7 linked regions of the Homo sapiens genome follow. The protein of the gene in region 7 purifies or fractionates together with the protein of the main gene of each other region. This does not show direct contact. Each region holds a gene or a part of one and is shown on either strand. Other genes may lie near its edges. The genes, in order: TMEM67, TKFC, OAS1, NT5E, MST1R, HACL1 and ALDH6A1.

The links.
Region 1: the proteins of ALDH6A1 (region 7) and TMEM67 fractionate together in Homo sapiens (co-fractionation; one large-scale study listed by BioGRID). This does not show direct contact.
Region 2: the proteins of ALDH6A1 (region 7) and TKFC fractionate together in Homo sapiens (co-fractionation; one large-scale study listed by BioGRID). This does not show direct contact.
Region 3: the proteins of ALDH6A1 (region 7) and OAS1 purify together in Homo sapiens (co-immunoprecipitation; one large-scale study listed by IntAct). This does not show direct contact.
Region 4: the proteins of ALDH6A1 (region 7) and NT5E fractionate together in Homo sapiens (co-fractionation; one large-scale study listed by BioGRID). This does not show direct contact.
Region 5: the proteins of ALDH6A1 (region 7) and MST1R fractionate together in Homo sapiens (co-fractionation; one large-scale study listed by BioGRID). This does not show direct contact.
Region 6: the proteins of ALDH6A1 (region 7) and HACL1 fractionate together in Homo sapiens (co-fractionation; one large-scale study listed by BioGRID). This does not show direct contact.

Annotation. Positions count from the first base shown.
Region 1 is NC_000008.11:93,761,394-93,764,893, forward strand, and holds part of TMEM67 (meckelin isoform 1 precursor), read left to right. Parts: intron 1-2,448; coding exon 2,449-2,548; intron 2,549-3,500. UniProt on the Homo sapiens protein: Required for ciliary structure and function. Part of the tectonic-like complex which is required for tissue-specific ciliogenesis and may regulate ciliary membrane composition.
Region 2 is NC_000011.10:61,339,728-61,343,227, reverse strand, and holds part of TKFC (triokinase/FMN cyclase), read right to left. Parts: intron 1,793-3,500; coding exon 1,714-1,792; intron 1,406-1,713; coding exon 1,316-1,405; intron 768-1,315; coding exon 733-767; intron 655-732; coding exon 570-654; intron 474-569; coding exon 384-473; intron 1-383.
Region 3 is NC_000012.12:112,916,962-112,920,403, reverse strand, and holds the end of OAS1 (2'-5'-oligoadenylate synthase 1), read right to left. Parts: intron 2,858-3,442; coding exon 2,704-2,857; coding exon of another isoform or gene 2,647-2,703; exon of another isoform or gene 1,808-2,646; coding exon of another isoform or gene 1,691-1,807; exon of another isoform or gene 1,016-1,690; coding exon 851-1,015; coding exon of another isoform or gene 711-850; 3' UTR 501-710; downstream 1-500.
Region 4 is NC_000006.12:85,488,083-85,491,582, reverse strand, and holds part of NT5E (5'-nucleotidase isoform 1 preproprotein), read right to left. Parts: intron 2,090-3,500; coding exon 1,984-2,089; intron 1,076-1,983; coding exon 926-1,075; intron 1-925. UniProt on the Homo sapiens protein: Catalyzes the hydrolysis of nucleotide monophosphates, releasing inorganic phosphate and the corresponding nucleoside, with AMP being the preferred substrate. Shows a preference for ribonucleotide monophosphates over their equivalent deoxyribose forms.
Region 5 is NC_000003.12:49,890,374-49,893,873, reverse strand, and holds part of MST1R (macrophage-stimulating protein receptor isoform 1 preproprotein), read left to right. Parts: intron 1-2,035; coding exon 2,036-2,116; intron 2,117-2,293; coding exon 2,294-2,475; intron 2,476-2,567; coding exon 2,568-2,677; intron 2,678-3,223; coding exon 3,224-3,389; intron 3,390-3,500. UniProt on the Homo sapiens protein: Receptor tyrosine kinase that transduces signals from the extracellular matrix into the cytoplasm by binding to MST1 ligand. Regulates many physiological processes including cell survival, migration and differentiation.
Region 6 is NC_000003.12:15,563,570-15,567,069, forward strand, and holds part of HACL1 (2-hydroxyacyl-CoA lyase 1), read right to left. Parts: intron 1,090-3,500; coding exon 982-1,089; intron 1-981. UniProt on the Homo sapiens protein: Peroxisomal 2-OH acyl-CoA lyase involved in the cleavage (C1 removal) reaction in the fatty acid alpha-oxydation in a thiamine pyrophosphate (TPP)-dependent manner.
Region 7 is NC_000014.9:74,063,954-74,067,453, forward strand, and holds part of ALDH6A1 (methylmalonate-semialdehyde/malonate-semialdehyde dehydrogenase [acylating], mitochondrial isoform 1 precursor), read right to left. Parts: coding exon 3,427-3,500; intron 2,934-3,426; coding exon 2,752-2,933; intron 2,140-2,751; exon of another isoform or gene 1,408-2,139; coding exon 1,228-1,407; exon of another isoform or gene 968-1,227; coding exon 869-967; exon of another isoform or gene 836-868; coding exon of another isoform or gene 735-835; intron 1-734. UniProt on the Homo sapiens protein: Malonate and methylmalonate semialdehyde dehydrogenase involved in the catabolism of valine, thymine, and compounds catabolized by way of beta-alanine, including uracil and cytidine.

The sequences.
Region 1 (3,500 bases), on a different chromosome or scaffold from region 7:
GTGCAACCTCTGTGGAAAGCAAATTTATGGTGTTTATCAAAATTAAAAATACAGATTATCTTTGCCTGGAAAGCTCTCATCTAGAAATTTCTCATTTGGATACACTTAACTGTATGCCTGAAGAAGTGTTGAATGTTTTTTTCTTGCAACATTATTCCTAAGACAAAAGATTATAAACAAAATAAGATTCTATCAAGATGAGATCAATCAATTAAATTATGATATAGTCATACAATGGTATAGAATGCAATTGTGGAAAAATAAAGAGGCAGTTCTACACATAGTGCTATGGAAAGAAATCTAAGATATATTGAGTAAAAAAGCAAGATTTGGAATAATTTATTCATTCATCTACAAATGTTTATTGAGTACCTGCTATTTATCAGCACTATTTTATGTACTTGGTATTCCACTATTTAGCTTTTTAAAGACCATTATATATGCATATGTGCTTGTATATGCACAGGTTATTTCTGAAAAGACTCATAAGAAACTGTTAACAATGCTGCCTCCTGAGTGAAGAACTGAGTGCCTGGGAATAGTGGGAAAGAGACTTAATTTTCATTTTAAATCTTTTTTTGCTTGGTGCAGTGTTTCACGCCTGTAATCGCAGCACTTTGGGAAGCCGAGGTGGGTGGATCACCTGAGGTTAGAAGTTCAAAACCACCCTGGCCAACATGGTGAAACCCTGTCTCTACTAAAAATAGAAAAATTAGCTGGGCATGGTGGCAGGTGCCTGTAGTCCCAGCTACTTGGGACACTGAGGCAGGAGAATCACTTGAATCTGGGAAGTGGAGGTTACAGTGAGTGAGATCACGCCACTGTGCTCCAGCCTGGATGACAAGAGCGAAACTCTCTCAAAAAATAAAATAAAATAAATCCTTTTGTGCCTTTTATTTTTATATTTCATATATTACCCAAAGATTAATTTTTTAATTATCTTTACCTTTTTTTTTTTTTACTTTTTAACAATTTTTTTTTTTGTGGTGATGGGGGTCTTACTATATATCTCAAGCTGGTCTTGAACTCCTGACCTCAAGCAGTCCTCCTGCCTTGACCTCTCAATGTGTTGGGATTACAGGTGTGAGCCACCATGCCTGGTCTTATTTTTTCAGAGACGTGGTCTTGTTATGTTACCCAGGCTGGATTCAAACTCCTGGGCTTAAGCAATCTACTGCACCCAGCTTCTTAGTAGTTTCATTGGCACTGTTGCCTCCATTGAAAATATTAACTTGATTCTCACGGTATTTGGGGGGTGTATTCTTAGGGATGGGACTAATGAAAGTTTTATGAGTTGGATGGCAATATGAAATTTATTACACTTCATGATGTACTAATTTTGGTGTGTGTGTCTCTGTGTGTGCACATTCAGAATTTTTTTTCCCTGTTTTATTATAAGGATCTACACTATATAGCCACAGGAAACATAAGTGGTATGTTTGCATAAATGTTTCATACACAAATATTGTTCTAGCATACTTTTTTCAGTTAACGGTATGCTCTGATGCTCTGTTAGATTTACCTGATTCTTTTTGTTTGTTTGTTTTTTGAAACAGGGTCTCACTCTTGCCCAGGCTGGAGTGTAGTGGTGTGATCTCAGCTCACTGCAACCTCCACCTACCAGGTTCAAGTGATTCTCATGCCTCAGACACTTGAGTAGCTGGGATTACAGGCACGTGCCACCACACCCAGCTAATTTTGTATTTTTTTTTTTTTAGTAGAGACAAGGTTTTGCCATATTGGCCAGGCTGGTCTTGAACTCCTGGCCTCATGTGATCCACCCACCTTAGCCTCCCAAAGGGCTGGGATTACAGGCATAAGCCTCCTCACCTGGCCTTACCTGATTCTTTTTAATATATTCCATAGTATTTTGTAGCATGGATATACCATCATTCTGCTATTTTAAATATTCGTGTTGTTTCTAACAAATAATGCCTCAGTGAATATCCTTATATACATGTTCAAGTGTTTCTGTAAGTTAGGTATCTAAAAACAAAATTGTGGTGTTATAAGGATGTGAATTTGAAACTTTAATAGATACTACTAAAAGCCTTCTAAGTTGCAGAAACTTATCAGTAATCTATGAAAATACTTGCTTCCCCATCCTAGTGTGACAGAAATGTATAGATAAGAGGTAAGAAAATTTTTGAGGAAAAAAATACTGACTTAATTGTTACGATGACTTGGAAAATGATTTTCTATATTTTACTATGTGAGAATAGGGAAGGCATCACTTCTCTTTTTTTTTGGAGGCATGGACGGGTACGAAGGGATCACTTCTCTACACTTTATTATGGAGATACTTGTTATGCCTTTAATGCAAATAAAGTGTTTTGAGAATTAATAGAATAATAGTTACAATTGGGTTTTGTTAAATATTTTCTGAATATGTAGAAGCTTATATGTTTACTATGAGTTACATCTTTATTTTGTTTCTAAACTGTTCAGTGGAAAGAGACATTAATGGAACATTGTTGTCTCAAGCAACTTGTGAGCTCTGTGATGGAAATGAAAACTCTTTTATGGTAGTAAATGCTTTAGGAGACAGGTAAGCAGTGTGATGGGGGCTAACTTCATTAATATCATCTTATATTAGTGTATAATTTGTACTTTTAAGAGTGTTTTCCTATCATATCACTTAGTTTTCACAATAACCCAAGGAAGGATAGAAGTAGACATTAACAGATACAGAAGCTGAGGCCCAGAGCGTGAGACACACTAGGGTTCAAATTTTGGTCCAGTCTGTTAGTTGTCTGACCTTGGATAGCTCACTACTTCACAATCCCTTGTCTTTAGAATGGTAATGTTACCACCCACTTCATAGGCTGTAATGGCTCAGAAATAATAAGTAATAAAGTAAATAGATACAGTTCTTAGTATAGTGCTACATAGTAACCACTCTGTACAGGGTAGCTATTTTTGTTTGTTGTTACATAATTTGTATATAATCTGTAATATAATTATGTGCTAAGTACTGTACTAAAGCCCTTATGTATTATAATGTTACATAGAAAAACATAAATGTATGCTAATAATAGCCCAGGTACCCTGATTTATAGTCCCATTTTCTGTTGCTTCCTGTTCCCCCTTTGTGCATGTATTTGTGAAACACACACACACACACACACACACCCCTGCCTGCCTATATACTTCCCTCTAATTTAAGCACATTATACCAATTTCAGCATCTTTAATTTATTAGAGGCCTACATCATGACTTCCCTCCGGGCACAGTTTTTTCTTTAGTTTCCAAGTTTAATATGGAAAATAGTTGAGCAGCTTTTCTGAGGGCTACTTAGTGTTGGATCATCTTTTCTCTAAGGCTGACCTGAGTTATGGCATCCAAATACCAATTTTTTTTGCCCAATATTTCCCCAAGCCTAGTGTGTTTTATGTCATGCCCCAGCCCGACTCCTACCTGCTCTATTTTGCAAGTGATGAATACCCATATATTCACTCATCACTGTCCTCATTGGACCAGTACCCTCCCTCCCTCTGTC
Region 2 (3,500 bases), on a different chromosome or scaffold from region 7:
TGATTTCCTCCTGGCAGGCATCCCTCAATAACCCCACAAATGACCACGTTCCCTGGAGGTGTCCCCTACGTCGGGGAAGATGAGTAATTACAGGTCTCATTTACTCAGTTCGTGCCAGGTGCTGGGCGCTGTGTTGAGTGTCTTACATATGTTTAATCTCACTTAATCCTCAAAACAACGGTATAAAGCAGGTACCATTATTATTACCCCCAATTTGCAGACAAGAAAACAAACAGAGGCTCAAGGTATCCGGCAATTAGGTGGCAGAGAGACGATTTAACTCAGGCTTATCTGACGCACAGTCCGTGTTCTCTGCCATCACAAGACCCTCCCTCAGCCCTTTCCAAAGGGCTGTAGGATCCCCTTCCCAGTGCATGGCTCACCCAGGGAGCGGACGGTAGCGTCGGCTATGATGCCCAGTTCCAGGAATGACAGGCCACCCAGGTTGTTGACCATCATCACAACTGAGGAGCCTGCGGGTAGACATGACACCCCAGGTGAGACCCTCTGGGCGTCTCCTCCCCAGAGGTTTAGGAGGGGTTGGGAGACGCGGGCGAGAGGCTACCCACCGGGCTGCACAGGCACATGGGACGCGTTGGTGGTGTTTGTCATGTGGTCGAGCATGAGTTTCACAATCTCATCGGCGGTTGCCATCTGTCAGAGGGAGCCAGGAATGAGCTGCATCTGGGGGGCCTTGGCCTTAGGGCGGCCTGTGCCAGAGGGACCACCTACCTTTATCCGGCGCACACCAGCTTCCCCGTGGATCCCTGCGGATAGATGTGGTCACTGCTGACCCACTCAAGGCCTGGGGATTTGCTCATCGTTTTTATCAAGGACTCACACAGTGCTGGACTCACACAGTAAGTGGGCGGGAGTGGGGGATGGAAATGGACAGAATAATGAAAAACACGATCTCTGTTCTCTGGGAGCTTGTGGCCTGGTGGTGGAGATAGCTTTAACTAGAGATAGTTAAGGAGGAAGCACAGGCGAGGAAAGAAAGCTTTGCAGCCAGGTGATCTTTGAACAGCCGTTGAAAGAAGGGTGTATTCTGGCAGGGACAGGAGGACCTGGGAATGGCAGGCAAAGGCTAGGAGGTGGGCAGTGCACAGAGCTCCACATGGCCAAAGCTGTGGGTATAGACAGCAAAGCAGGTAGAAATCAGGCAGGTTGGCCCAGGCTGGGCCTCAAATGACCAGGTAAAAATACTAAGACCACCTGGGGAGAGGACCAGGTTGATGGCTCTAAGGGTATGCAAGGTGGGCAAAGTCCAGGGCCAAGGAGCAGGCAGGGCTGGGATGGATGGCCACAAGCTTACCCAGGCCCAGCTCCACCTCGTCGGCTGAGAGCTCGAAGGTGGGTTTGGAACCAGGGACGCTGCAGGAGGATAAGCTCACCCCCAGGGTACCTATGAGAAACAAGGCATGAAGGGATGACTGTTCCACTCTTAGCACTGGGCATCAGGAAGGGTGGCAGCAGCATCTCAGAGGCCCTGCCCACAGGTACCCTCTTCTCTGAGAAAGGCTGCCAGACTCTCCACCTCAGCCATGGTACCCAAGGCCACCAGTCCCCAGGAGCTCCCCCAGGGATACACTCCCTAGACCCCTGGGGAATAACCTGGGGAGCACCGCTAGGCAGCCAACAGGAACCTGCTCCTCGCCCCAGGGCTGTCCAACCTTCCCCACTCTCTTCCCCAGCTCCCAGGCCAGCACTCACCCATGGCCTTGGCGACCACGTTCACCTGCTTTGCGATCTCCTCCAGCCCCACACCAGCCTCAGCCAGAGCACCTGCCACCTGCAGCCACAAAGAGGTAAAAGCCCCAGGGGGGAGGGTATCACTGTACCATGTGGGGTAGAAGACAGGCAGGGGATGAATTTCTTGTTGGGAAGGGGGAACCTCAGGATTTTCACACTCAACCTGGCCCATCACATTTAGGGCAGAAGAGCAAACTCCCCTCATTCACAGTGTACCTGCCAGGAATCTTCAAGAATTCCAGTCTGTTGGAGTCAGAAGAGACTTTACAAATGGGGAAATGGACCCAGAGAGGGGCGGTGACTTGTCCAATGTCACACAGCCAGTGGGTGGCCAGTTTCCCAACTCTAGAGTTCCAGAGTTCTCTCTCCCATAGCCTTGCTATTTTGGGTCACTTTACCCATCTATCCATCCATCCATCCACCCAATTTTTACCAAGCATCTAGTATATGCTGAAAAGGAAAAAAGGCGACTAAGTCACAGTCTCCACCTTCAAGAACTCACAGCCTGGGGAGAGGCTAGGGAAGCAGATACCCATAAATTGAAAATTTATGTGAGGTGGTAATTACAGTGATGGAGTCCACACTAGGACTGGCTGCCAACCAGCTCAGGGTAGTGGGGAGATGGAGATCAGGGAGAGCCTTCCAGGTGGGGAGACATCAGAGCTGGGCCTCTGTAGAATGGTAGGAGTTAGCCAGGCCAAAAGGAGGCTGGACAAGGAAAGAATTTTCCAGGCCACAGATACTGCATAAGCAAAGCCAGAGATGATCCATAGCCTGGCAGGTACAGGAGCTGGCGTGAAGAGACCATAAGAGGAAGGCAGGGGCCGGGCGCGGTGGCTCACGCCTGTAATCCCAGCACTTTGGGAGGCCGAGGCGGGTGGATCATGAGGTCAGGAGATCGAGACCATCCTGGCTAACAAGGTGAAACCCCGTCTCTACTAAAAATACAAAAAATTAGCCGGGCGCGGTGGCGGGCGCCTGTAGTCCCAGCTACTCGGGAGGCTGAGGCAGGAGAATGGCGTGAACCCGGGAAGCGGAGCTTGCAGTGAGCCGAGATTGCGCCACTGCAGTCCGCAGTCCGGCCTGGGCGACAGAGCGAGACTCCGTCTCAAAAAAAAAAAAAAAAAAAAAAAAAAAAAAAAAAAAAAAGAGGAAGGCAGGGATGGCTGGGCGCGGTGGCTCACGCTCGTCATCCCAGCACTTTGGGAGGCCGAGGCGGGCAGATCACTTGAGGTCAGGAGTTCGAGGCCAGCCTGGCCAACATGGTGAAACCACATCTCTACTAAAAATACAAAAATTAGCCGGGCGTGGTGGCAGGCGCCTTGTAATCCCAGCTACTCGGGAGGCTGAGGAAGGAGAATCACTTAAACCTGGGCAGCGGAGACTGCAGTGAGCCAAGATCGCGCCACTGCATTCCAGCCTGGGCAACAGAGTGAGACTCTGCCTCAAAAAATAAATAAATAAATAAAAAATAAATAAAAGAAAATAAAAAAAAGAGGAAGGCAGGGATGATGGGAGATGAAGGTGGGGAGTCAGGGAGCTATGGTGAGGGCTTGTATTGATTGTAGGCACCCAAGAAGGCTTTCAGTGGATGAATAACCTAGTCAGATACACATTTTAAAAAGACACCTCTGGCAGTAGTGTGGAGAATGGATGAGCAAGGCCAGAAGGCAGGAAGCAGGCAGGGGAGCCCAGTGAGGAGGTGGCTGCAGCCATCAGGCATGAGTAGATGACCCCTGAACCAAGGC
Region 3 (3,442 bases), on a different chromosome or scaffold from region 7:
AACTTGGCATTCTTTTCATTTGTACTAAGTCTTTGAAACCAAGTATATACCTTGCACTCACAGCACATGTAGATTTAGACTAGCTACATTTTAAGCATTTGATACATGTGGCTAGTGGCTGCTGTGTCACACAGGGAGGTTCTATAATTTTTCTCAGAGATATGGAGAAAGGATAAATCAAGGATGCTTATTTCAGAATTATTAGTAATAGGAAAACCATCTAACATTAAGATGTTTTGCACAAATGTCAACTCCATGAGGACAGGGATTTTTTTATTTAAAAAATTCTGGAAGTCTTGGCTCTGCAGGGTCATGAGGACAGGGATTTCTGTCTGCTTTTGTGCATTGCTATATTCCCAGTGCCCAGAGCTATGCTTGGCACATAGTAAGTGCTCAATAAATATTTCTTGTTGAATCAATGTATATACACACACAATACCCCTAGATATGCATCTGTACTTCTTGGCTCTGTGCCTTGAAGTTAATAAACACCCAATAAATGGTATTTGCTTTATTTTTATTGTTATTGATAATACATTAGACATTACCCTCCCATCAGGTGCACAGAAGAAAGTCAAGGCTGGAATTTCATTCTCTTATCTAAATCTCTCTGTTCTCTCTCAGGGAATATTTTCAGAGAATAGGTGGAATGAAGTGAGGCTGTGGAGAATGTTATCTATGATAGGATAGAGGGCATAGAAGGCCAGGAGTCAGGAGACCTGGGTTCTGTCCTGGATTATACACCAGCTCACTGAGGAGCTTTGTCCTCTCTGGATCAAGAGTCCCACCTGAAAATGAAGGAACTGGTCCAGATAACACTGGAGCCCTTTCCCCCAAGATGCACTGGCATTCAGAGGATGGTGCAGGTCCAGTCCTCTTCTGCCTGTGGGGTGGATGCTGCCTGGAGTGTGCTGGGTCTATGAGAGAAATGAGGGTACTCATGTGTTCCAATGTAACCATATTTCTGATACCTCCTGGGATCGTCGGTCTCATCGTCTGCACTGTTGCTTTCAGCCTGAAAGGGTGAGACACATGATCACATCAGGGAGTCTTCCTGCATTGCAGCTGGATTCAGTGAGCATTTACGGTAGACACTGTGACATGCCATCTGGATCCCCCTTTGAGGAAGGACTAACAAGCCCCAGCTGCTGGGACAGTGGTCAGCAGACAGACTTCAGCCGTCAGCCCTTTTAGGGGTTGCCTCAGCTGCAGAGAGCCTTTTGCTCAAAGCCATGCCCTTTCCCAAGGTGCCCAAGCACAGTGAGTGATCCACGTAGGGGTATAGAAGCCTGGCCACCTCTGTCACCATGGGGCAGCTCTAAAGGCCATTCCAGCTCCAGGGCTGTCCTTGGAGTTGGCTGAAACTGGCATTCGCTCTGCATCCCTGTTCACTTCTCCCTATTCTCTTTCATGCTTCCTTCCTATCCTTTCTTCCCCCCTTTCCCTGAGTGCTGGTTCCAGTGGCTCTCCCCCAGAACATCCTGCATACTAAATTCCATCCTGGAGTCTGCTTCCTAGCCATCTGCAACATCATCAATCCCCTGGAATCAGACAGATTCCTGCTTGGAGGTGGAAAGATCCAAGACTGGGTCCTTTGCCCCTGTTTAGCTGTGTGACAACCCAAGTCACTCAGCTGCTCAGAGTCTCCCATTGGTCAGATGAGAGGTGGGGATGTGACAAGGCAGGCTGTTTAGCACAGTGACATGAGCACTGGCTTTAGAGTCCACTGAGCTTGAATTCCATTTCCACCACTTGTTAGCTGATGTCCTTGAGCAAGTGACCTCACCTCTCTGAGCCTTTGTCTCATCTGTAAGATGGGAATGATAGAAAACATGCCTCATGGGACTTTTCAAATAACTAAAAGTAGAATGTCCATTCAACCCAGCAATCCCACTACTCGGTATCTACCCAAAGGTAAAGAAATCATTCTATCAAAAGACACCGGCACTCGTATGTTTATCGCAGTACGATTCACAATAGCAAAGTCATGGAATCAACTTAAGTGCCCATCAGTGTGAACTGGATAAAGAAAGTGTGGTATATCTACACCATGGAGTATTATGCAGCCATAAGAAAGAATGAAATCATGGTTGCAGCTGGAGGCCATTATCCGAAGTGAATTAACCCAGAAACAGAAAATCAAATACTTAACATCTGCTAAAGATGGGAACAATAGACACTAGGGACTCCAACAGGGAGGAGGAAGGGAGAAAGGCAAAGGTTGAAAAAATTCTTTTTGGGTACTCTGTTCACTATTTGGGCGACAGGATCAATAGAGGCCCAAACCCCACCATTACACAATATAGCTGTGTAACAAATGGCACATGTGCCCTCTGAATCTAAAATAATAAAAAATTTTTAAAAATGCCTCATGGGATTGTTGTGACTATTTAATGAGAGAGTGCATATTAAAGGGCTTAGGACAGAACCTGAGCCCGAAGCAGACAGTCAATAAATGGTGTTAGAGATTATTTATTATTACTCTTAGGGGAATGAATTCTGGACAAGGGATGTGAAAATTCCAGAAACCCTCGATTGTGACCAAAATGACTGTAAAATATGGAGCACAGCCTGTCACTATATGAATATAAATGGCCTTTGGCAAGAGGTAAGTTCTTTGGAAAGAATGGTCTCCAGCTATATGTCTCAAGCTTCATGGAGAGGGGCAGGGATGAATGGCAGGGAGGAAGCAGGAGGTCTCACCAGCAGAATCCAGGAGCTCACTGGGGACCCATCCCAATTCTTAAAGCATGGGTAATTCAGCCAGGCCTCAGCCTCTTGTGCCAGCTGCCTCCAACCCTTTGGGTCTCCACCACCCAAGTTTCCTGTAGGGTCCGCCGGGTCCAGGATCACAGGCCTGCAGAGCAGCATTTAGAGAGGGACAGGTGAGAAGCTGGGGCTCTGTCTAGGGAGTCCAGATGCTCCTGGGAGAGCAAAATAGCAGCATGGGATGAACTGGGACTCAGAACATGAGGAAGGGCTCCCTGGGGTATGTCCCCAGTGCCCTATTCCCCAGCAGGCAGTGAGCATGAGGAGAAGGAGCCTTGCACTTGCACCTGACAGATGTGGGTTTGAATCCCACCTCTGCCCTTTATCAGTGATGTGCCCTTGGGTAGGTCACTTGAACTCTCTAAGCCTCAGGATTCTTATCTGTAAAATGGGAATAGTTCCACATACCTATCTCAAAGGCTATGCTGTGAGGATAGAAAAAGCCCAGTTATATGAAATGCTCAGCACAGCGACTAGAACATAACATACATATCAGTAATATTGCTAATAATTTTTACTATTATATTAGCATGTGTTAGTCTTACAACAAGCTTTCAATACCTGGGAGCAATTACTATCATTGTTGTTGCTGCTGTTCTTATTTCAGTTCAAACTGCAGCTATTTTACTCATTTTCTGTTAAGGGTTGGACAAGCTCCTTACCTCTCAGAACC
Region 4 (3,500 bases), on a different chromosome or scaffold from region 7:
GATTTGGTGACTTCCACAAGGCATAGAGCTATGCAGTGCTTTGCTAGAGCATCAGAAAACTGCTTTTCCCTCAACTCCCTTCTGGGAAAATGGAGGATGTTTGGGTTGCCCCATAGGCATTAGGACAGGGCCCCACTGCCTTCTGTAGCCCTTCAGTCTCAACAGCAATGTGTTCTGCAGAGGAAAACTCAGGAAAGCAATTCTATCTGTCAAGCGGGACCACAACCTAAGGTTAAAAAAATGAGGCCAGATTATGATTTCCAGGTAAAATAAGATTGCTTTTAAAGGATTAATTCACTGGACTGTGGAATTATTAACAAAAGTGTTTCAGAAGCCCTTGGCAATTTAGGAAGCATTTATTTCCATTCAACTTTCACTGCAGTCCATGAGATAAACAGGAAAGGTTTTCTCCCTGTGCCCAGAGGGGTTGAGAACTTGCCCCAGGTCACAGTGGGACTAGAACCAGGTGTTCAGGTATGTCTGTGCAGTAGGCTGCTCCTTCCAGGAATCATCCTGGTTAATACAGATTGGACAGCATTCCTTTAAATCTTGGCATGGTTCCAGGCAACGATGAGTAGAACAGAGGAGAGGATTTAAAAAAAAAATAATTGAATGCTTAAATAAGATTTTATTAGAAACTAGACCTCAAAGCAGGTGACCTGCTTAGAGGGCCCATCTGATGTCCAAATCAGACTTGGCAAATACTGCTTATTGCCAGGGCTTTGGGGCTTTGGGGCTTTGACCCCAACCTAATCTTAGTGGCTCTGAGAGTCCACAGCCATTAAAGGGTAAGGTATTGGTGTTGGGTCGGGAAAAATCCAAACCAGTTTGACCACAGGAATTTTGGTGAAGGGGAAGCTGAGCCAACCAGCAGGAAATGCCATGTCACTTTGGATGGGCCAGCCCTACAGGATGGGTGACTTACCGCCCACCTGCAGGAACTCTCCAGTGGACTGGCCGTAGCGGTGCACGCTATGCTCAAAGGCCTTCTTCAGGGTGGAACCTTTTAACTGGACTAGGTCAAATGTGCCTCCAAAGGGCAATACAGCAGCCAGGTTCTCCCAGGTAATTGTGCCTGAGGGTAGTCACAGATGAGGCAAGAAGGAAAATAGCTTGAGAAAATGCTTACACCATGACCAGTTTCCCTCAGCGCTGGGGGAAGAAATGAGGGGGACATGGGAAGCTTATAGAGCATCATTAGCTATGTCTAAGTGGTTCCTGACACTGAGGAAGGGAATGAGTTTAGGAGGCCTCTGGCCCTGCACTCCACCACTGGGCAAGATGGCGGGAGCTCACAAATGGCTGTGCCTCAGAAGTTCACCATGCTCAGTCTTAGATCTGCTAGCTTGGGGCTGGATCTCCAGTAGTTTGTTTTGCATTGTTCCGTTCCTCCAGACAAACAATGTGCCCCTGCAACCTGTCCCTGTTGTCTGACAATGGGATGCGTTTGGGGCCTTATACTGATACTGATTGGTTTTCACAGTAAATCAGGGAGGGCTACAAGAGTGTCTTGAGTATTTGTGTAGTTGATTTGTTTTGCCATATGATATAATCTTGGATATCTGTAAATATACTAAGGTAACATTTTAATCCAGTGGTATGTCTTTTTCAGGACAGAAGATTGGTGATTTTGTCTCTTTTCAGATGCCAAGGTGGTGACTGTTGTTATTTTGCATAAATCAGAAACAACTAGTATAGCTTTGTAAGTCAGAAATTCAGACCAAGTTTGAGTTCCACTAACCTTACCTGCAGCTTCTGTGTGTGAATACATATAAGAACACACAAGCTTGTGTGTGTCCTTCAGGCTAGGTTTTAGACTTTAATAATGGCTAACCCTAATTTAAAGGACTGACATTCTGGTACATGGCTGGCAGCAGAGATGAACTGAGGCTGCACATGGGTGTGTTCAGGGCAAGAACCATAACAGAAAAGGAGATCAGAGAGAGAACATGACACACTGAGGAGCTGGGCCTGGGAGCATACCATTGTTGCGTTCATCAATGGGCGACCGGATACCACCTCCATTTAAAATGCACATGGATACGTGGTTCCAGAACATTTCATCCGTGTGTCTCAGGTTGTTGTTAATCTGCAACAGTAGCACAGATTTACACTAGTTACTCTGGCTCTTCTTCCTTAGGATCAGCTCCAGGAATCTGGTTAGCTCTAGTGAGGAAATAAAGCTGCTTTTCACCTGCTGCTGTGTTCCCAGGGATCTCTCAACTATAATTAGAACTAATTTTATGCTCCCAGAAGTAAAAATATACTGTTACCAGTCCATGTCAAACTCTTATTTCCCCCTCCTAAAACTCCCATACTGTCAGGCCAGGTGGCCTTAGCAAAATGGTCTCTCGGTTGTAGCCCTGGTGTCGGGACTGGGCCTCCCATGCAAGGTGGCCTGCAGAGTCACTCCTGCACAGGCTTCTCCAGGGCAGGCCATGCCCTCTGCCTGATTCTGAGGGCTTGGCCCTAGAGCCTGCTCAACACCAGACCTCATGCCAAAGAGAACCTGGCCTCCACGTCTATGTCTGCAGCTGATTCCCAAGTTGGCAATTTTGGAAAGACAGAGACAGCCTTTTGAAGCTGGGGAGAATCACATCCATTCTTACTTTTATTTTACAAAATATATGTTTAGTTATAAGAAATAAAATGAATATATTCTCATTTAGGAGACAAAAAGCCGAAAAAAAAAAAAAAAAAAGGCCAGGCATAGTGGCTCACACCTGTAAATCCCAGCACTTTGGGAGGCTGTGGCAGGTGGATCACCTAAGGTCAGGAGTTCGAGACCAGTCTAGCCAACATGGTGAAACCCCGTCTCTACTAAAGATACAAAAATTAGCTGGGTGTGGTAGTGGACACCTCTAATCCCAGCTACTTGGGAGGCTGAAGCAGGAGAATCGCTTGAACCCAAGGGACGGAGGTTGCAGTGAGCTGAGATCATGCCACTGCACTCCAGCCTGGGCGACAGAGCAAGACTCAGTCTCAATAAATAAATAAATTAATTAATTAAATAAATAAATAAATAAAAAGCAAAAGCTCTCCTTTGTCCTAGCCTCTTTAACAGAGTGGATAAGCACTGCCAACAGCCTGGGTTGTTTCCCTCCAGACTTCTCTTAACATTTATATACCAGCTTCTCCTTAACTACTTCTCTGGCATTGACTGCATGATGCTGAGGAGACATCATGAGTCTGGTCTTGGCATGAGCATGATTGTTGTCATTTACACGGCAAACATTTATCGAGTGCAGTTGTATCCTGGGCACTGGGCAATGCATGCCAAGCACTGACAGAAATGACTTCCCTGGGTGCAGGCTGTGAGCCCATGGAAGTAGTAGTCCGACATAGGAGACCTTGGCTCAGTAAGGCCCCCAGAGAGCTACCATGGCCATTCCGCCTGGTGACAAGTAGACGGGCTTGTTCTTCATACCTGGTCTTGCTCAGCCATAGGACTTGTTATTACCATTAAAACTGTGTGTTGTCTTTCTGTGCCTGTGAAAGAG
Region 5 (3,500 bases), on a different chromosome or scaffold from region 7:
AGGCTGGAGTGCAGTGGCGCGATCTCGACTCACTGCAAGCTCCGCCTCCCAGGTTCATGCCATTCTCCTGCCTCAGCCTCCCAAGTAGCTGGGACTACAGGCGCCTGCCACCGTGCCCGGCTAATTTTTTGTATTTTTAGTAGAGATGGGGTTTCACCGTGTTAGCCAGGATGGTCTCGATCTCCTGACCTCATGATCCACCCGCCTCAGCCTCCCAAAGTGCTGGGATTACAGGTGTGAGCCACCGCGCCCGGCCTATTTTATTTTTTCAAGATGGAGTCTTGCTCTATCACCCAGGCTGGAGTGCAGTGGTGCAATCTTGGCTCACTGCAACCTCCCCCTCCCAGGTTCAAGCAATTCTCCTGCCTCACCCTCCCTAGTAGCTGGGATTACAGGCGCCCGCCACCACACCTGGCTAATTTTTGTATTTTTAGTAGAGATGGGGTTTCACCATGTTGGCCAGGCTGGTCTCAAACTCCTAACCTCAGGTGATCTGCCTGCCTTGATCTCCCAAAGTGCTGGGATTACAGGCGTGAGCCACTGTATCCAGCCTATTTATTTATTTATTTATTTATTTATTTATTTATTTATTTTTGAGACAGAACCTCACTCTGTCACCCAGGCTGGAGTGCAGTGGCATGATCTCAGCTCACTGCAACCTCTGCCTCCCGGATTCAAGTGATTCTCCTGCCTCAGCCTCCTAAGTAGCTGGGATTACAGACGTGCACCACCAAGCCCGTCTAATTTTTGTATTTTTAGTAGAAATGGAGTTTCATCATGTTGGCCAGGCTGGTCTCAAACTCCCGACCTCAGGTGATCCGCCCGCCTCGGCCTCCCGAAGTGCTGGGATTACAGGCGTGAGCCATCGCACCCGACCCTGCTTTATTTACTTATTTATTTATTTTTATTTTTTTGAGACAGAGTCTCACTCTATTGCCCAGGCTGGAGTGCAGTAGTGCAATCTCGGCTCACTGCAACCTCTGCCTCCTGGATTCAAGCATTTCTCCTGCCTCAGCCTCCTGAGTAGCTGGGATTACAGGGGCCTGCCACTGCCACCACACCTGTCTAATTTTTGTAGTTTTAGTAGAGACGGGGTTTCATCATGTTGGCCAGACTGGTCTTGAACCCCTGACCTCAGCTGATCCTCCCGCCCCAGCATCCCAAAGTATTAGGATTAAAGGCATGAGCCTTTTTTTTTTTTTTTTAATTTAAAAAAAAGACAGCATCTCACTATGTTACCCAGGCTGGCCTTGAACTCCTGGGCTTATGCGATTCTCTTGCCTCAGCCTCCTGAGTAACTGGGATTACAGGCGCACTGCGCTTGGCTTCTGCTGCTTTTCTTTGAGGGGGATGGAGTCTCGCCCTGTCTCTCAGGCTGGAGTGCAGTGACACGATCTTGGCTCACTGCAACCTCTGCCTCCCGGGTTCAAGCTATCCTCCTGCCTCAGGCTCCCAAGCAGCTGGGACTAGAGATGGGGTTTCACCATATTAGCCAGGCTGGTCTCAAACTCCTGACCTCGTGATCCACCCGCCTTGGCCTCTCAAAGTGCTGGCATTACAGGTGTGAGCCACTGCACGCAGCCCTGCTGCTTTTTTAAAATGTCAGATTGGGCCGGGTGTGGTGGCTCACACCTGTAATCCCAGCACTTTGGGAGGCCTAGGTGGGTGAATCACAAGATCAGGAGTTTGAGACCAGCCTGGCCAACATGGTGAAACCCAGTCTCTACTAAAAATACAAAAAAATTAGCTGTGTGTAGTGGCAGTTGCCTGTAATCCCAGCTACTCAGGAGGCTGAGGCAGGAGAATCACTTGAACCTGGGAGGCAGAGGTTGCAATGAGTTGAGATTGCACCACTGCACTTCAGCCTGGGCAAGAGTGAGACTCGGTCTCAAAAAAAATAAATAAAAATTAAAAATAAATAAAATGTCAGATTGGCCAGTTTAGTGCTCTGAGGTCTGGTTGCCAATGAGAATGTGTGGTGTGAGCCTTGGGCCCTGGATCCCCTCTCATCGACTCATTATGCACCTCACACCAGGCCACTTTGGAGTTGTCTACCACGGAGAATACATAGACCAGGCCCAGAATCGAATCCAATGTGCCATCAAGTCACTAAGTCGTAAGTGGGGCAGAAGATGGGAAGGCAGAGGGAGGGGCCTCAGGCTGGGAGGATTCTTTTTCTCTGTGTTCCCACCTTACTGAGTGACCCTGAGCAGGAGACCTTCATTTCCCATTTCCCCATCTGAGCCTTATAAAGGGACGCCCTGCCCTGTGCCTGACTTGCGCTGCTCTGCAGGCATCACAGAGATGCAGCAGGTGGAGGCCTTCCTGCGAGAGGGGCTGCTCATGCGTGGCCTGAACCACCCGAATGTGCTGGCTCTCATTGGTATCATGTTGCCACCTGAGGGCCTGCCCCATGTGCTGCTGCCCTATATGTGCCACGGTGACCTGCTCCAGTTCATCCGCTCACCTCAGCGGGTCAGTGTTCATCTGGCTCTGGGTTGGGGGCTGGGCAGCAGCTGGAGAAGGAGCTGCTGTGCCCTTGCCCACCAACCCACCTGTGCCCCCAGAACCCCACCGTGAAGGACCTCATCAGCTTTGGCCTGCAGGTAGCCCGCGGCATGGAGTACCTGGCAGAGCAGAAGTTTGTGCACAGGGACCTGGCTGCGCGGAACTGCATGTGAGAGTCCAGAGTAGCTGGGGTGAAGCAAAAGGACAGGGCATGAGGGTGTGCGGTGCTCAAGGCCGCCTCAGGGAAGGGCCCACTCCAGCCTTGTCCTCCCCTCTCTGCACCTTACTTTTTTTGTCTGCCCAGTGCAGACTTGGACTGGACACTGTGGCTTTGAAATTTGGCCAGGCGCGGTGGCTCACGTCTGTAATCCCAGCACTTTGGGAGGCTGAGGAAGGCGGATCATGAGGTCAGGAGATCGAGACCATCCTGGCTAACACGGTGAAACCCCGTCTCTACTAAAAATACAAAAAGATTAGCCAGGCGTGGTGGCGGGCCCCTGTAGTCCCAGCTACTCAGGAGGCTGAGGCGGGAGAATGGCGTGACCCCAGGAGGCAGAGCTTGCAGTGAGCGGAGATCGCGCCACTGCACTCCAGCCTGGGTGACAGAGCGAGACTCCGTCTCAAAAAAAAAAAAAATTCTGTAAGGGCCTAGAACAGGTGGGTTCAGGGCCTGGTAAGGGCCAGTCCTAAGTGTGATCCTCTCCCTACCCCTAAGGCTGGACGAGTCATTCACAGTCAAGGTGGCTGACTTTGGTTTGGCCCGCGACATCCTGGACAGGGAGTACTATAGTGTTCAACAGCATCGCCACGCTCGCCTACCTGTGAAGTGGATGGCGCTGGAGAGCCTGCAGACCTATAGATTTACCACCAAGTCTGATGTGGTGAGGCCCCACCTGCCCTACAGTCCACATGGCTTTGGCACCCAAGAACACTGGGCCTCACCCATTCAGCTCTGAATGATCTGAGCCCAGGGAGTCCCCAGGGTAGATGAC
Region 6 (3,500 bases), on a different chromosome or scaffold from region 7:
GAAATTTAAATCTTAAACCTTGTAGAAAAAAAGTCATTCTCTGAAATACTTCATTAAAAAAATTTCAGCTGAACTCAAAGGCATACTTTTATCTTCAACACTTAAGCTGAGATGCCAGTACACTGAGTTTTTCCTATATTTATAATTGTCTATATAGCAATGTCCAGTAGAACTTTCTGTGATGATAGAAATGTTTTAAACCTGTGCCATCCAAGACAGTAGCCACTATCTACCTGTTGCTGTGAGCACTTGAAATGTGACTAAACTGAGGAACTAAATTTTTAATTTCATTTAATTTGAAGTAATTTAAATCTAATTTGCAACAGTTGCAGCATGCCTAGTGGCTACTATACTAGACAGCACAGGCTACATTATCAACTATTATGAATCCAGAAGAAAAACATGAAAAAAAAAGATTACTGCAAAACAACAAATAATAAGAAAACAACAAATAAAGTTAGTGAGGCATAAATAGACACACCCATACCCTGTTCCACCCCAAGGCTGGCTCACAAATTCATATCTGTCTCACATTCTACGGCCAGCTACAATACTGTCTTAATCTGGCTCTGCCATCAGATGATCAAGATTTAGCTAAGTGGTGAAAGGAAGGTAGACCTCTGGAACACAAATAATACGTAAACATCCACATTTCCAAATGGTGTAACAGGAATCAGTAGTCCTACTATTGCTCCCAGTCCAGGGAGCATTTTGCAATAAGCCTTTTCATTAACAAGGCTCAGACATCACACTCATTTATCTGAGTCTTCAGTGGCTCCCTGATTATTTACTGAAGCACCTAATCATGGATATTTGTGCAAAGAGGAACTAAGACAGGATTCCTTCTCTTTAGAAGGGCTGACAATCGAAACGGACAATACTCATACCATGTAGGCACATTACTGCCAATATAGAAGACTTTTTAAAAAGAGATTAAAACGGGAAAGAGAAAGTAAACAGACATTGGTCTTGGTTACTTACACTGCAGTAGCATCTTGAAATTTTAACATTTCTTTCCAAGTATCTGTATCAAAACCTTGGTAAATTCCATTGTTATTCACTACCAACAGTATGATTGGCAAGTTGTACCTAAAGTGAGAGTAAAATATGAAGGAAATCATTCTTCATTTTAAAGTAATTTCTTTTCTTTGGGTTGAAACTTTAACTTAAAAATGAATAGTTTCCTATAAGCTTTTTGTATTATTAGAGGAAGACTAAAAATCAAGCATTTATTATCCTAAGAAAGAATATCAAATAATTAACAGAAACATCATGGAAAGGCAGAAAGAATGCAAGATTAAGAGTTGTTAGTCCTGGCTGGGCATGATGGCTCATGCCTGTAATCCCAGCACTTTGGGAGGCTGAGGTGGGCGGATCACAAGGTCAGGAGTTCAAGACAAGCCTGGCCAATATGGTGAAACCCCGTCTCTACTAAAAATACAAAAATTAGCTGTGCATGGTGGCATGTGCCTGTAGTCCCAGCTACTCGGGAGGCTGAGGCAGAAGAATCGCTTGAACCCGGGAGGCGGAGGTTGCAGTGAGCAGAGATCACACCACTGCACTCCAGCCTGGGTAACAGAGCAAGACTCCATCTCAGAAAAAAAAAAAAAAAGTTGATAGTCCTTTAGCTATTAGCTATGAACCTCAGACAAATCACTGAGCTTTTCTGAATCTGGGTTTTCATAAGTCTAGATGGTATATGAAGAACACCTTCCCTATTTAATACTCTCTAAAGTACCACTTCTAGTTGGTTCCTAGGAACAGTGTTTGAAACGTACCTTTCTATTTACTGAGCTCCCCACAGACACCCAGCTCTTGCTAGATGCTGTGGAAGATACACAAGTAACTAGCACACACAATCTGCACTCAAACTACCACACACATAATCAGAAACACATTACATGGTGTAGTCAGTACAGAAAAGGAGTATTTAACAGTGTGCTAAACAGTATAGCAAAGACAAAAAAGAAAAGGTTGATTAAATGTTATTGACTGAAAAGAATGTAGGTTTTATTTTCTAACATAATTTCCAAGGGCAAGTGGTAAAAACAAAACTAAACTGCATACTGTTAAATAACAGGACTGTGGTAATTATTTGCTCTCCATGCTCAAAAGGAGTCATTATCCACTAAAAGGCTAACTTCCCCATAAGTCATCTTTTTTGTGTATATCACTTGGTTGTCAATAAAGACACTCTAACAGACACATACAGTCAGACCTCATTATCTGAGTTCTGCATCCGTGGATTTAACCAATTGCGGGTCAAAAATATTTGGGAAAAAAAATTGGATCTGTACTCAACATGCACAGACTTTGTTCTTGTCATTATTCCCTAAGCAATACAGCACAACAATTATTTATATAGCATTCATATTGTATTCAGTATTTTAAAGTAATCTAGACATCATTAAAAATATATGGGGGGTATGCATAGGTTATTTGCAAATACTGCACAATTTTATATCAGGGACTTACTTGAGCATCCTTGGATTTTGGTATTTGAGGAAGGTCCTGGAACCAATCCCCCACTGATATAGAGGGACAACTATACCTTCCCAAATCTTGAACGTTTTATCTACCAAAGCTTTGCCAACCCCAAAACATGATTCACAAAAGCCCTAATAAGAGCCCTGGCTAAGAATAGAATGGTTTTACTACAGTTTAAATATAGCTGGAAAAATAAAACCCCCATCCTTCTATAGTGAGGATCTACAATTCATGAGTTTCTCCATGAATTCTCATAACTACACACATGATCCAAATGACTCATGTTCACTGAGCATCACCTCAGAATTTAGCTGGGGCCAAGCATGGTGGCTCACACCTGTAATTCTAGCACTTAGAGAGGCCAAGGCGGGTGGATTGCTTGAGCTTAGAAATTTGAGACCAGTGTGGCCAATATGGCAAAGCCCTGTCTCTACAAAAAAATACAAAAAATTAGCTGGGCATGGTGGTGCATGCCTGTGATCCCAGCTACTCAGAAGGCTAAGGAGGCAGGATCCGTTGAACTTGGGTGGTTGACGCTGCGGTGAGCCGCAGTTGCGCCATTCCACTCCAGTCTGGGTGACAAAGCAAGACCCCATCTTGAAAAAAAAAAACTGCTTGGATTACCTCATTTGTTTTTCATAATCATCTTTCTAAGGTAGGAACTATTACTATTCCTACTTTTTTTTTTTCAAGGAATTTCTGCCTAAAGGATACTATTCCTGCTTTAGAAGAGAGGAGACTGAGGCTTGGTTAAGTGACTTTTTTTTTTTTTTTTTTTTTGCGATGGAGTCTTGCTCTGTCGCCCAGGCTAGAGTGCAGTGGTGCGATCTTGGCTCACTGCAAACTACACCTCCCAGGTTCAAGCGATTCTCCTGCCTTCAGCCTCCCAAATAGCTGGGACTATAGGCATGCACCACCACATCTGGCTATTTTTTGTATTTTTAGTAGAGATGGGGTTTTACCATGCTGGCCAGACTGGTCTCTAACTCCTGACCTCAGGTGATCTGCCCACC
Region 7 (3,500 bases):
CAGATCTGCTTTACTTTTCTTGTTCAGTGCTGTATTCATAGTGCCTAAAATAATGTCTGCTACAGACCGGGCAGAGTGGCTCACACCTGTAATCCCAGTGCTTTGGGAGGCTGAGGTGGGTGGATCACAAGGTCAGGAGTTCAAGACCAGCCTGGCCAACATGGTGAAACCCTGTCTCTACTAAAAAACAAAAAATTATCCAGGCATGGTGGCAGGCACCTGTAGTCCCAGCTATTCGGGAGGCTGAGGCAGGAGAAGTGCTTGAACCCAGGAGGCGGAGGTTGCAGTGAGCTAAGACCATGCCACAGCACTCCAGCCTGGGCAACAGAGCGAGACTGTGTCTCAAAAAAAAAAAAAATAATAATAATAATAGTAATAATAATGTCTGCTACAAAGAACGTGCTCAACAACATTTTTTGTAAATGAATAACTATTACAGAAAAAATACGTGCAATGGGAACACACTGGGGTCACACTACCCAGCACTGAGGGAGGGGTGGTGGTAGTTGGAGGAGATTTTCTGGAGGAGCTCATTTTTTAAAGTGAGACATGACAGATGATTAGGAGTTAGTCAGATGAAAGGGGAGAGATGGGGAAGAGGGTCACACACTCAGGAAATGGCATATACAAAGGCTTAGACTTCCCCATGCTCTTTCCTCAAAACTTTGTTGCTTTGAATTATTCAGGAAGAAGCAGCTTTGGCAAAATTTTGTTAACTTTTAAATCTTTTTTAGGGAACCTTCTGAGAAGCACTGATTATGACCTCACAGATGCTGCTGGCAGTCCCTTCCTTGCAGAATCCTTGCTCCTGAATATCTTTAAGAAAATTTCTTAAAGGAAAAGACAAAAAATTTAACTCAAAAGTTACCTGTTTGCCATAGAAATTGGTGTCTCCCCTGAAGGAGGATCGAGAGCCGGTGAATGAGAACATTGGCAAAGGCACTGGAATGGGGACATTCACTCCCACCTAAAACAGAACAAATCCGTGTCATATCCTAAGGACAAAGGAACTCTCCATTTAGAAACACAAAGGCATCAGAGACCAGTTTTAAATACCCACCTTCTACCCTATCCTCTACCCCATGAACTTTCATTCCTGAGGAAGAAATGGGGCAATGTGGGAGGTCATGGGGGCAATCTTAAACCAATGACTCACCATTATTTACTGTTTCCTCTTAGGAAATAGTAAATGGATATAAGAATCTCTTAAAAATTCTGTTCACGAACCTGTCCAACATCCACCAAGTGGGCATATTTCCGAGCAGTGGCTCCATTGGTGGTGAAGATGGCAGTTCCATTTCCATATGGGTTGTTATTTACAATCTGGATGGCTTCATCCAATGTTTCTGTCTCCAGAACCACAAGAACTGGACCAAAAATCTCCTCTTTGTAACAGGTCATATTTGGCTGCCAGGAGTGATGCATCCAGAAAAGAAGTCAGCTTTTTGGATTCTGAGTATTTTATGCTTATTTGGTACTTTCACTTACTACACATCATTTACGTGGACAACTTTCATATTACTAATCTCTTTTCATTTCAAATCACCTATTTAAAAAAAAAGTCCTCTCTCAAGTGTATTCCGTCTTCCAAGTTACCAATCATATAAACAACTTGGAATTCCTATCAACAATAACCACACTTCCTTTAAGGGACTGTATCTTTAGTTCATGACCCATCATCAGCTGCCTTTTTAATACCTGAACGACTAGTTTCATCCAATTGTTATCAAAAAGTTACATGAAAATTTATTTTTTATAAATCCAATCTATAGTAAATATACCAGGATAATTTTTCTCTTTACAGAAACCCCATGCTGTTTTCTGTAACATAAATAATCCATTCTTATTCACTCCTTTGCCTCCCAAATATGTCTGTATGTTTATATTTTGATATCAGGTCGCAGACACTCAAAACATCCTTCACCATGCAATTAATGTTTGTTGCTGATAAACGGATTTTTCTGTATGGTTCTGTGGCAAGAGATTTCATAATTTCTACTGCACTTACATTCAACACTTGATGATTCACTATTATAGTAAGGATATATGAATTTCAAAAAATGCCTCATAACCTCAATTTTTAAGTCATGTTAGCTGAGAGACTTTCAAAGTTTTGATAAATAAAAATTGACAAGTCAATTATTTTTGTCACTTTCAATAAATATTGGGTGGTTGATATATTGATTGAGACACTGCAGTAGCCATAAGCTAGGCAGCAAGAGGGAGAGGGGAGAGAAAACATTAACAAACCAGTATAAGATAAGATAGCGTTTGGCAAACTATAGCCTGTGGGCCAAATGTGGCTTCCTGCCTGTTTTTGTACAGCCCCAAGTTAAAAATGGTTTTTGCATTTTTAAATGGTTGAAAAAAAATTAATCATATATAAAATGATATGAAATTCAAATATCAGTGTCCATAAATAACATTTTTTTTGGAACACAGCCACACAATGTTTATAGCTGATCTCACACTACAATGTCAGAGTTTAGTTGCAACAGACACTATATCCCTGCAAAGCTGGAAATATCTATCCCTTTATGGAAAGTCTGCAGACTGCTGGTATAGTGGAAAGAGTTTGGTTGGGAGTTAGAAGGAGAGGCTCATTCAGACTCCAGATAAAATAATTGATCAATCCTGGCAAGAGATAAGGTCTTAGTCATTAAGTATTTTCATTAATAAATTAGAGGGATGAGATTCTATAGCCTTTAAGGTGCCTTCAGCTCTCATATTTGTGAAGTGAAAGTTGTTCACCTTGACATTCGAGATGATGGTTGGTCCAACAAAGTTGCCATTTTCATAGCCTTTCACTTTAATTTTTCGTCCATCAAGAAGGATGGAAGCTCCCTCCTTTGTTCCACTATCAATCAGATTACAGACTCGCTCTTTGGCCTGGGGAGTGATCAGAGGGCCAAGATCAGCTCCAGGCTGATCTCCTGTAAAACAACACAGAAGAATTTAAGGTCCTCATTAACATAAATTATGACTGCTGCCAGGGCTCATGCCTGTAATCCCAAAGCTTTAGGAGGCCAAGGCAGGAGGACTGCTTGAGCCCAGGAGTTCCAGACCAGCCTGGGCAACAAAGTGAGACTTCATATTTACAAAAAATAAAAAAATTAGCCAGGTGGTGGCCCGCACCTGTGGTCCAAGCTGCTCAGGAGGCTGAGGCAGGAGGATCACTTGAGCCCAACAGTTTGAGGCTGCCATGAGCTAGGATGGTGCCACTGCACTCCAGCTTGGGTAACAGACAGCCTGTGCTTTAAAAAAAAAGACTGCTAACAAGATGACTCCAAATGACAAGTACAGTATAAAGAGAGGAAATGGCAAGAATAGACATGATTGTTCCCACTGGCCAAGGCCAGTGACAGAACCCAAGAGCTTAATGCCACAGATGCAAAATCTAAGGGGGCAAGTCAGGTGATTGATTACCTGCATTGACTCTCAGGTTTTTGGCATGCTCCACCAGCTCTGGCAGCCACTTCTTGGCTTCTCCCACAAGGACT